Homo sapiens: one gene and its partner. The protein of the gene in region 1 interacts with the protein of each later gene in a pairwise test. Each region holds a gene or a part of one and is shown on either strand. Other genes may lie near its edges. The genes, in order: ERICH2 and MACROH2A1.

Region 1 (5,389 bases):
GTTACATTCTCTGGCAGGTAGGGAGAAGATGAAATGAACAATTAAACAAGCATTTCAGACACTGATACATGCTGTAAAGAACATACAATGAATGGGCTGGGCACAGTGGCTCACGCCTGTAATCCCAGAACTTTGGGAGGCCAAGATGGGGGGATCACTTGAGGCCAGGAGTTTGAGACCAGCCTGGTTGATGTGGCAAGATCCCATTATCTAGACAAACAAACAAATGATGAATGATATAAAAGTGCCTGAAATGGTGGTAATTTATAGGGAACTAAACATATGAATTCTGGGGCAATAATGTCCATGCACAAATCCAGGCTCTACAAACAAATAGGTGTATGATACTGGACAAATTATTCACCCTGTCTGTGCCTCAGTTTTCTCATCTGTAGAATGGCATAATAATAGTACTTAATGGGGTTGTTGAATTATACAATGTGTGTAGAGCAGTTTGAACAGTACCTGGCACACAGTCCTATGTAAGTGTTTTCAACTATTTTCCTCTCTGAGTAACTCATATATTGAGCTAAGGCCTAAATATTAGGAAGAGTCTTAAGCCAAGAATATAGATAACTTAAAAGAAACTGTACCAAATAAGGAAGAATTAGACTAAAATGTCACTTGTCTTTATATTTGCATGGTATACATTAATGAAAATACATGAAGCTTCAAGTATTGCAGCAACACTCATGATCCATCTTCACCTTCGTCAGAGCTCTCGTCACTCAGCTCCTCATCGCTTTCTCCTTTACTCTCACCACTGCTGTCTTCATCACTGTTTTCACCGTCTTGCTCATGATTCTGAGTTTTCTCTGCCACAGAAAGGAAGAGGATTGCTTAAGGTGTTTCTTAATATTTCACTCTGAAAAATAATTCTCCTTGCCCCTCCCTCTACCAAGAAATACATATATTTGTAACATAAGAACTGAGTTGGACTTGGCTAACTGCACTAGGGTCAAATGGTAGTACAAAGAAGAAATGTATTTTTACTGGCATACAGGTGTTTTTGATAATTTAAAACATAAGTCTATAAAAATAATTTTACTATTGTCAATGAAATTCTATTTAACGATTTCATAGAATTCTTTCTATCATAGAATTTTATTGACAATAGTAAAATTGTCCATTGAAAGGAATTGAGACAAGGTAATTGAGAGGGTGTGGCTTCCCTTGGAATTGTGGGTAATTCCTTTAACACGCAGCCGTGTTAGCATATTCTGCTTGTCAATACCTGATGCCTGGTGCCCAGGGAGCCTGCTCTGCTCGGGCAGTTCTATCCCACAGAGAGAAGGGGGTCATTGTGACCATCCACAGAGGACAAGCTGTTTCACTAAACCATTTAAGACAGCCATTTAGCCTTTTCTTAACCACTTCCTAAAGATGTATCGACAATCTCCCGGGATAATGGGTTTTTAAAGTGACTGCTTATAGTTCTATGAGAAACAAGGAATTTCAATTTTTAAAATTACCCATCAGCAACATTTCTTCAATAAGTGTGAAAAACTCCTTGGCCTCAGGATTTTCTGGTTCATAGATTAGGACTGAAAATGAAAATGGACAACAGAATGTGTGTTATTAACGTTCAGTGTTGCAGCAAACAGGCTCCTTAGAATGAAATTGAACTGTCAGTCAGAGCAGGTGAAAGGCACAATGCAATAAACACTAACAATTATACCACAGGTATATCTGAGTACAAATAGAGAAAATTCTGCACTTCTATTTTGCACTTTGGAAGATAAATGATCCTCACTATATTTTCTTTCTTTCTTTTTTTTTTTTTTTTTTTCCCTGAGACAGGGTGTCGCTCTGTTACCCAGACTGGAGTGCAGTGGCATGATCTTGGCTCACTGCAGCCTCTGCCTCCCGGGTTCAAGTGATTCTCGTGCCTCAGTTTCCTGAGTAGCTACAGGTGTGTGCCACCACGCCTGGCTAAGTTTTGTATTTTTGGTAGAGACAGGGTTTCACCATGTTGCCCAGGCTAGTCTCAAACTCCTGACCTCAGGTGATCCACCCACCTCGGCCTCCCAAAGTGCTGGGATTACAGGCATGAGACACTGCACCCAGCCCTCATTATATTTTCTACCTCCTATCCATAGAAAGCAATCTCTATCACCTCAATATAGCTTCCCTCATAGGACAGTAGCCAGAGTGTTTCATGAACATAATCATTTCCCAAAGAAGGTACAAATTCTGCAAAATATGGAGACTTTGCTAATGAGAAGACTGTGTGCCTAGAGGTCTGTTAATCCTTCATCTCATGTCATCCACCCATCTACATGACATCCTTTACTAAAGGTCTCATCGGAACACAGAGGAAGTTTTTGTTTGTTTGTTTTTAATGCAACCTCTTCCATGCTAGAGATGCCATTTTGTTACATCTTTCCAATAGGGGAACTGATGTTACTTCTTTCTCTTCATCTTGACAACTTTTACTGTAGTCTACACGTTGGTCATTGCCTGCTTAACAACATTCTCCACCTTCATTGGACCCATTGTTTTCAGTACTATTTATTCCTTTCTGCTGATCCTTTATGTCACTGTGTCACCTTTCTTTTGGACCACAACAATAGACTTTTTTAGGCTTGTTAGTATGTTAGCAAAATCCTAGAGGCCAGAAAGATTTATACCCTTAGTTTCAGAGTTGTCTAGACTATTTTATTCACTTTTTTAGATCTCGCTCCACAGATCTCTCTCTACTTCTTCCTACCAGCCTTGAGGAGTATTCATAATTTTGCATCATCCGTTTAATATTGTGACTCCTGCTCAATATCTTGGTGGCCTCCAAGGGGGGCACTGAAACATCAAGTGTGCTCTTCATCTGGCTAAAAGTAAGACACAATTGTGAGGCTGGGCATGGTGGCTCACACTTGTAATCCCAGCACTTTGGGAGGCTGAGGCAGGTGGATCATTTGAGCTCAGGAGTTCAAGACCAGCCTTCGCAACCTGCTGAAACCCTGTCTCTACAAAAAAATACAAAAATTAGCTGGGCGTGGTAACACGTGCTTGTAGTCCCAGCTCCTTCGGAGGCCGAGGCAGGAGGATGACATGAACCTAGGAGATGGAGGTTGCAGTGGGTTGAAATCGTGCCACTGCATCCCAGCCTAAGTGACTGAGGGAGACGCTGTCTCAAAAAAAAAAAAACAAAAAAAAAAACAAAGAGAGAGAGAGAGATAACCATTGTGGATTGTTCAATTAGACCCCATTGGCTCATAGGATCCCACCCATGGCTTTCATCTTGATACACAAAAAAGGGACTTTATTTCCTAATCTACTAACATAACTAACAATTTGTCATCAATCTGGGTTAGCATGACTGCGTGCCTGCTTAGAAGCTGCTTTTAAGGATCCTGTAAGTATTTTATGTATCATTATACATACCCATAAGGTTTCTGAGCAAAGTAATTTTTTGCACATTTTACCTTGGACTAAAATATGCTTATCATTAATAGTCTAAATCTCTGAGGCTAAGCTTCTTTCCAGAAGAGGGTTTCTCCAGCTTGCTTCTTTAGATACTAGTTTCTTTAAAAGTATACTGTAGGCTAATAGGAAAGAGTGAGTTATTTTATTCAAAAATAAATAGAAGATTTTGTAGGAACTATATTTTTGGAAGATACAGTATATCTGTATTTGCATTAGACATATAATGGCATGAAGTATTTTGGTTTTTGAGCCATTATTCTTTAACATTTACAACTGATGATTTATTAAATAAATCTTCCGGACCTCCATGTATTATGTAGAGAATCTCAGGCTGCCTGGGAGCAGAAGTGTGGTACCCTAAAGAGACTGAGCTGCAGGCTTTTGACTTACAGGTGAAGTGACCAAAAAATAGGAAGATTGATTGGCACCAAATCTCATAGTCACTCATGAGATGAATGGAGAAACGTAAAGTACTTTGGACTCTTGACTTTCAGTTCCATTTAAAAACCACTTTTGGACAGGTGCAGTGGCTGATGCCTGTAATCCCAACACTTCGGGAGGCTGAGGTGGAAGGATCCTTGAGCCCAGGAGTTTGAGACCAACCTGGGCAATGTGGTGAAACCCCGCCTCTACAAAAAATACAAAAATTACCTGGGCATGGTTTTACGTGTCCACAGTCCCAGCTACTTGAGAGGCCGAGGTGGTAGGATCCCTTGAGCATGGGAGTTCAAGGCTGAAGTGAGCTGTGATCACACCACTGCACTCCAGCCTGGGTGACAGAGTGAGACCGTGCCTCAAAAATAGTAATAATAATACTTCAGTGTTTTTATAAAAATAGAGAATTGAACATGATTCTATCAGGATTCCTTCTAATTTGAAATTCTGGCTGGATGCAGTGACTCTCATCTGTAATCCCATTGCTTTGGGAGGCCATGGCAGACAGATCACTTGAGCCTAGCAGTTCAAGACCAGCCTGGAGAATATGGCAAAACTCATCTCTACAAAAAATACAAAAATTAGTGGGTGTGGTGGTACACACCTGTAGTCCCAGCTACTAGGGAGGCTGAGGTGGGAGGATTGCCTGAGCTGGGAGATTGAGACTGCAGTGGCTGACATTGTGCCACTGCACTCCAGCCTGGGTGACAAAGCAAGACCCTGTCTCAAAAAAAATTCTATATTTGTGGGTCACCAAAAATAAGTTTGACTAAAATATTTTATTCAATGGCTCTAAAGGTCAAAAGTGCTTGAAAGGATTATTTACCTCAGATACAAGATAGGAAGTGTTGAAGTATTCAAGAAACCAATTTGTAAAATGAGCCAATGATCTAGAAGTACTCTATCCACAGTTGGGACTCTTGTGAGGCAAGCCAGGGCAGACCGTCACTCAATCCTTGTGCTACATTTTCACTTAAGGACTTTACTGTAAGAATGAATTTAAGTTTAACACTGCTTAATATTTTGAGTCTTGTTGTCAACAAGTTTAATTGTAGAGTTGCTATTTTCTCTTTTTTAACGTATTATCACTAATATGTTAGAAGAAAAAGATGCATAAAATAGTTGAAAAGATGATAGAGTTCAACAAAGAACCAGAATCTTTCCAGATCATTAAATGGAAATTCTAAAATTGGAAAAGACAACCTTGGACTCACTAAATAGTTTTAACAGCATATTGGATACAGCAGAAGATAGAATAAAGAAACCAAAAACAGGTAGATAGAAAATATTAAAACTGACACATAGAAATAAAAGAAAGAGAGCCAGGTGCTATGGCTCACCCTGTAATCCCAGCACTTTGGGAGGCTGAGGCAGGAGAATCACTTGAGGCCAAGAGTTCGAGACCAGCCTGGCCAACATGGTAAAACCCCCATCTCTACTAAAAATACAAAAATTAGCCAGGCATGGTGGCACAAGCCTGTAATCCCAGCTGCTTATGAGGCTGAAGCATAAGAATCACTTGAACTCAGGA
Region 2 (7,278 bases), on another chromosome or scaffold:
TGGGGAAGCTAGTCTGGGATTGAAATTTCACCTCTGCAAACCCATTCGGTGATGCGCTTCCCGAGATGCACTGAAGGAACTGTGCAGCTTGCTACATTTTAACAGCAAGTTACTGCCTGCCTGCTTTACAAAAAAACTTTTCTACATACTCCTCTCTCTTTTAAAGGTTGTGCCAAACTCTTAAGATAACCAGTCTCACGGAAGGCTATTTAGAGAAAAGTTAAAGTGTGGGCTTCACAGGACAGGACTCTGATAAGGCTTAGCATGTAGAATCCACTCATTATTTGCCGAGTAGACGTGTTCCCAATAAGAATAAAAAGAACACCTGATCCTGTCTCTCTCCTGCTCAAAACCCTTCAGTTGCTCTTAGGATAAAGTGTGGGTCTGACCAGAATCCTTTGTGATTTGTCCTGTTTGTCCCTCCCTGAAGCCTCACCTGACTCCGCACCAGGACTCAGCCATCCCGAGCCTCTGGCAGTTCCCCACATGACCTCTGTTCTTTTCTTCTAAGATGCACACATGGGGTTCCCCAGGCCTCAAACACTTGTCCCCATCTGCCCTCCTTTGCCCAGCCATCTCCTGCTTGACCTTTCCAAGCCAGATAAGGGCTCACTCCTGGCTAGGTTACTGTACCTGCTGGGGGGCTACGTGGGGCCTTTTGCACTGATTTTACAACAGCTACTTGCCTGCCTTCTCCCAAAGTCAGCTCCCCCAAGGTAGGGGCTAGGCATTTCTTAATCACGGCTGTGTCCCCAGTGCCTGAACAGGAGCTGATTCTCAGGAAATCTTTATGGAAAGACTCTGAGACACTGACCTGACAGGTTTGGTCCAAGCAAACAAGCTATACAACTCTTTGGAATGAAGAGTTGACTCACTCAGGCTCACTTGTAAGCACTGAGGCAGGGCCCAAAAGACCTCTAAACCTACAGAATATGGGAAGGACCCACAGAGATCTGGGCCCCAATCACTCCTGCCCCTTCCCAGCCCATGTTCTAGGAATGGGGCTCTGAAAAGGCTGTCACAAATCCTTGGGGACACTCAAATAAAACCAGAGGCTGTTGCAGTTCTGATGAACAACACATATAGAGTCTTGTTGGGTTCTTCGGCTTGAGGTTTTCAGTTTATGCTTTTATTTAAATAAATCTCCTTTAGGTGACTTGGGGCCGCATTAGCTCTGAAGGCAGGTCCCAGAACACATGCCCTCTGAGCTTCTCAGTGGGGAAGGAATGCGAGGCGCTCCTCAAGTTCGCCTCTCTCAGGGACCAGAAGAAACATCAGATGGAGATGTGTCACTCCCTGACACTGGCCCATTTGGTAAAAACTAAACCAGTGGCATGGTTGTATACTAGAATGTCACATGTGAAGTTCCAGACAATTCTTAAAGTTTAATAAAATGTGAGTTAAATTATGCCTCCTTCTAAAGGCCTGCCTCAAACAATTTTCATTTAGACAACCCTCTTAATGCCTTATCTAGGGATCAGCATTAACAATGGTGACAGATCGAAGCCAAAGAACAGACTGGAAAGATTTCTCTCTCCTTGTAAAACTAGAAGGGGGAAGAATTTGAAGTCTTTCAAGAGTTTTGTTGTGTTTAAGAAAAAATAAGTTTGAAAACATACTCATCCTCATCAGAGAGTCTCTTGTGCAAGACTGAGATGCTGCTGCCCAACTCTAGTTAAATGTGTACAATGGGTATTAATTCCAGTTGCAGGCAAGAGGTGTCCATTTCAGAGTTAACACCTCTGACAACAGGCTAGTAGCCTAAAGGTGGCCTGCAGTAGGTGAATTCCACCTAATTTACAACTCGAGTCTCCCATTCAAACCTAAGACTGTTAAAAAATGCCCGACTCCCTGGAGCAGGGAGCTTTGGAACAAAACACTTCCCTTACCCCCTACTTTAACGGTAAAACCTCAAACCACAAAGGTGGAAGAAAAGAGGGAAGCTAGCAGGAGTGCCCCCTCTAATTGTCTATTCTTATGTGCTGTTTACTGGGTCATTAAAATCTTACAAGGCCTTTATAGTCATTGTAATTGTTGAATTCAAGGTTTGTCCCAGTTGTTTGTACAGAAGTCTCTCACTTTGAAACTCAGAAACATTTCCCCTAACATCTTGTCTAAAAGAACCTTTCAAGCAATGTACTGACCAACTCCTTGAGTGATCTGTGGCCCCTGCAGGAGTGGGGGTAGGGAGCGCCATGTCGCACACCTGTTGTCAGGTGACACTGCCAGCAGCATCCTGCACACTCACCTCCCCACTCCACCCCACCCCCAGCGAGGCTCTTTCCTGCTGGCCTTCTCCACCCGGGGAAGCCTACAGCCTTCCGGAGTTACCTTTTAAAAAAAGCAAACCCTTCCTACCACAAAGCAAACAAAAGGCTGATACCGAGACAATCGGGAGCAGCGGGGGTTCCCGTGGCCCCTCTCCAGCCCATCCTTGGACCACTCCCCAACCCGGTCCCCCGCACCAGCCCGGCTTCAATCCCGCGAGTAGCCCCCGCCTTCCCCTCCCTGCAGATAGCGAGCCAGACGCCTACACCTCGGCCCCCCGGGGCTCGGGCCCGACTTATTGTGCCGGGGCCGGCAACTCGCGGGCCGGCGGGGGCCTCACCAAGTACAACTCTGCTCACAGCAGCTCCCGGGTGCCCAGGCCCAGACTGCCTAGCCAGCGCCGCGGGGCCTCCTGCGGCCTCGGGCCTGGCCCGTGAGCCCGCCCCAGGAAGGGTCGCCAGGGTAGGCGCCAGCACCGCTTTTTTCCCACAAAAGCGCCCAGGCGCGGGCAGGGGGATGCGTTTCGAAGAGAAGTTGGTTTCCAGGTTTCTTTTTTGAACAAAACCAAAGGGAATCCCGCGCGGCCCGACAAGGCCTGGGAGGACGTAGTGCACGCGCGAGGACCCGGCGTGGGCCACACCGAACCCGGCGGCCCGAGCCCGGCCCGCACCACACCGGTGCGCGCCAGGCCGGGCCGCTCCCGGGCACCCGCGGCCGGACCCGAGCGGCGGGGACAGGGAGTGCGGCAAGGGGGCCCGCGCGGCACTTACGCGGCGGCTCGGTGGCGGCGGCGGCAGCTGCAAGGTGTCTCGGCCTGAGCCCTCCTGGCCGCTCGCGCCTTTTCTCTCCGCGCTCCTCGCTGGCCCGCCCGCCTCTTCGCTTCCCGCCCGCGCGGCCCGCGCTCTCCCCCTCCGCCCGGCGCCGCTGCCGAGTGAACTGGAACCAGTCCTCGCGGCCGGCTTCCCACAATGCACAGCGCGCCGCTCGTCACATCCCTTCGCGGCCCCGAGCGTCCGGCCTCCGCGCCCGTGCCGCCCGGCGCCCCGGCCTTGACCCCGGGCCCGCGCCCTACCCGTTGACGCCGGCCGCTCTGCGCCCAGGCACCAGCCCGCACCCCGGACGCGAGGTCTGACCCATGACCCCGGGGACGCCCAGAGCCCAGTCCTTGGGAAGGGCCAGGCCCCTGGAGAGGAGCTTCTTCAGGGCGCGTCCCAGACTCTGCGTCTCGAGTGAACGCCTACTGTGTGCCTGGCTCTGAGCACGGGACTGTCGCTGCCACGGCATCTTTAGGAACCTTCCCACTAACCCAGTGGGAAGGCACAATGGCTGTTACCAGCGATCGCTCTTCCCTCCCCAGTCAATGCCAACTCCCCCCTGCCCCGCCTCAGAGACCCCGCTGTCTTTAGATACAGGCCACCGCCAAGCCCTGGTCTGCCCCAAGATCAATTACTGCGCACCCGGTTCCCCTGGGGTCCTTCAGTTAATCCTCCTCACCCCGAAGTCTGGAACCTGCCTTGCACATGGAAGCGGTTAGCTACTTCGCTTCAGCAAAAGTTCACTTTCGGACCCAAGTTGGGAATTACTAATGTAGACAGTGATTCCTTATCATCACACACGTTTTTTAAAAACTGCGGACAGGCCGAAAGAGGAGGAGCCGCCACAAAGCCCGCCACGTCTTCCTAAATTGGTTTACCGCCTGAAGGCATTGGTGCCCCATCCCGGGTACTTAAATGGGGGCCTGCCCTCTACTCCCCTCCCTCCAAAGTGTGGAGCCGGAAGCCACTTCTCCATCCAGCTGTGAACTAAATTTGGATAATAATACACATCCCTCAGGGTTGATGTGAAGTTTAAAGTGCCGCTACTGGGGATTATGGAGGTAATTAGAGACCCCCACCCCCACCCCCCAGTCCTCAGGCTGCGCGGGAATCGCAGCGGCAGTAACCTCCACCTCACCGGGATGCTTTACACCTTACTTTAAGAGTTTGCAAAACAATGTCCAATACCTGCCATTCATGCATTCGTTAATTCGATTAAGTACTGAGAACGTATTTTGTGTCATACATCGATTTGGGTGCTGGATATGAAACAGCCAAGAGAACAGGCAGAAATCTCTGCCCTCCTGTAGTTTGCAGTCTCGTGGGGGAAAGACAGACAAACGGGAGAATGTGTCAGAGGGTCTCCATGGGGTGGAGAAAAATAAGGCGGAGAAGGGGAATAGGAAGTGTGAGATAAGAGTGAGGCTCAAATACAAGAGAAGGCCTCTATGAGAAAGTAACATTTAAAGCCTGAAGAAATTGAGGGAGCAAGCCGTGTGGATGTCTGGGGAAGAACTGCGCCGAGCATGAGGAATAGCAAGTGCAAAGGCTGGGGTAGGAGTGTGTCCAAAATAGTCAAGACAGAGCGAGTGTGAGGTTGGAGTAGAATGGGTGAAGGGGAAAGTAACAGGAGATGAAGCTGGAAAAATGATGATGCTTATGATGCTTCTGGTCCCAAAACAAAGCATTATGGTTCTATGAGGATCTCCCGAAGAAAAGATGTCAGGAAAGGTGCAGAGACCCTCCCCCACACACCACATTGTTGTTCCATCCTTCTCTGTGCCTTTGGGCAAGGACTCTCCGTTCTGTAGGGACCACCAGGTGGAATTAAAGTCTACACTCCTCCAAGAGCTGATCTTGGGGCGGCCCCACCTCCATGCCCCTCTACAGCGTGCCATTCTCATAGAACACACTAGGACCTTTGTCCTCTGGAGCTGTTCAGTGCAGCAGCTCTGACCTCATCCTTCTCCAGAAGCCTCCACCTTCTCTCCCCTCTCTCCTCCTGCGCTTTGTGTGTCCTGTTCTTCCACTTCGGTGACCTGTCTCCTCCCCTAATCTGGCTCAGAGAGGGGTACCAGCTGCTGCTGCTGCTATTGCTTCTTCTTCTGTTAAAGGTTTTTTATTTTTTTCCAATGACAAAGCTATGCTCATTCTGAAAACATGAAAAATAAAAATGCTCAAAAAATAAAACTCACTCTACATTCATTGCTAGGAGAGAACAGCCTGCTCCCATTCCAGCCTTTTTATCTATATCCACTTAACATTAAACATACAGAGTTTCTACTCTATTTAGTGATTGTCACCTGCACTTTAAACTTAATGGTTCTTTATGAGCATTTTACTGGGTAGTTGTTCTACAATAACATTACTGGAACTGTTTGGGTTTCCCTTGACCCTCTTAAAAATTACTGAGAACCCTGAAGAGCTTTTGTTTTATAGGTTACATCTATCAATATTTGCTTTATTAGAAATAAAAACTGAGAAAAAGTAAATATTTATTAATTTATTTTAAAAATGTTAACATGGAAAGAAATTATATTACATAAATAATGTATTTTAGAAAAATAATTATACTTTCCAAACAAAAATAATTAGTGGGAAGAGTGGCATTGTTTTACAGTTTTGCACGGCTCTTGAATGTCTGGTGTAATAGAAGATAGCTGGTTTCATGCCTCCTCCTGCATTCAGTCGGTCACTATATGTTGTTTTGTTTGAAGTATGTGAAGAAAATTCAGCCTTATGTAGATATGTATATGGGAAAGAATAGAGGATTTTAATCGCCTTTTCAGATAATTACAGATGTTCTTTTTTCATACCACACCAAAATGCAAGGAGTCGTTTCTTAAAGGTTAAGTGCAATGTAGAACCTGAAAAAAAAAATCAATAAACTTTTGAACTCAGTTAATACATTAAAATCCATTGGCCTATTTTATATCTTGACTGGGTCCTTTAGCTATGCATAATTTGGTAAAATCATACATTGATCATTTGGGAAATATCAGTTCACTGATTTATACGGATCTTACAAATGTAAACACATTTCATTGTACAATATTAGAAAATCACATCTATTAATAGCACCACTGATCTCATCTGAAGGTTTTTGAGTATTGGGAAGTTGTCAAGCTCTTGGTGGCAGATACGAGTTTCCCAAAATTGTAATTTCTGCTTGAAAGCTCAAGTTTATCACTGACAACATAATGTCACAGTGATTTTCCTAGAAATGACAGGTTCATTTCATTCATTTTCAAGAAAATGTCTACCACAAACAAAGGACCACATTATGACTTTCATGGGCCATAGGCATTTTTGCCTGCATGGGCCCTTTCCTCCACTAAAAAGACAACTGCACTGGTATAAAGACAAATAAATTAATATTGTATATTAAAACTGTGCCTCGTGGAGTATTCAGCCCTACGTACACCCAATTCTGAATACCCATAGTTTGTCTGTCAGGTGTAGCTTCTCCATTAGAAACAGTACTCAGGCCCCCAGGACTTTATGGGCCCACGAAAATGTCTTAATTTCTTTTAAAATCAGAAGAAAATGAAAGTTAGTTCTTTTATATTGAAGAAAATATTTTAATATATAATGTTAATATATTTGTCTTTCTACGAACACGGTTGTAAAATTTTTTTTCTATTGTTTTATAGAAGAAGGGACTCATGAAGGTAAAAGTGCCTAGGGCCATGAAAGTGTAATGCAGCCTTGCTGTCAGCCCTTGTTTCAAGAAAAGCTAGTGTTCCATGAGAAAAGCAGCTAGTTTAACTCACAGCTCAATTGCACACGTGCTTCTCCTCAAGATGACCATCCTAGTAGAAATGCTGTATGCGTACTTCCCATTTGGTCACGTGGAATATTTTAAAATGTGTTCCAAAGGGTCAGATTTAATAAAATTAATGCTTTTTACTGTTTCATCAGGACATTCTTAAGTTAAACTGGCTCTCTTTTTTTTTTTTTTTTTTTTTTTTTGGCTGTGAGTGCTTCATAATAAATAATAAAATGATGATGAGTATGGGATGATGCCATTGCTGATTTGTGGTAAGTCGCCAGCAGTTTTATCCACTACTGTTCTTGCACCATTTGTGCAAAGATCAACACAGGGAAAAGTCAAATAATGTCTTAATGTTAACATGAAAATAGTTGTGACTTTTTGTACCTCCAGGAAGGGTCTCAGTGACCTTCGGGGGACTGC

What was found.
Region 2: the proteins of ERICH2 (region 1) and MACROH2A1 interact in binary tests that used the Homo sapiens proteins (3 or more experiments, as listed by UniProt).

Annotation. Positions count from the first base shown.
Region 1 is NC_000002.12:170,794,196-170,799,584, reverse strand, and holds the end of ERICH2 (glutamate-rich protein 2), read right to left. Parts: intron 1,545-5,389; coding exon 1,473-1,544; intron 816-1,472; coding exon 691-815; 3' UTR 608-690; downstream 1-607.
Region 2 is NC_000005.10:135,396,024-135,403,301, forward strand, and holds the start of MACROH2A1 (core histone macro-H2A.1), read right to left. Parts: upstream 3,209-7,278; 5' UTR 3,039-3,208; intron 1-3,038. UniProt on the Homo sapiens protein: Variant histone H2A which replaces conventional H2A in a subset of nucleosomes where it represses transcription. Nucleosomes wrap and compact DNA into chromatin, limiting DNA accessibility to the cellular machineries which require DNA as a template.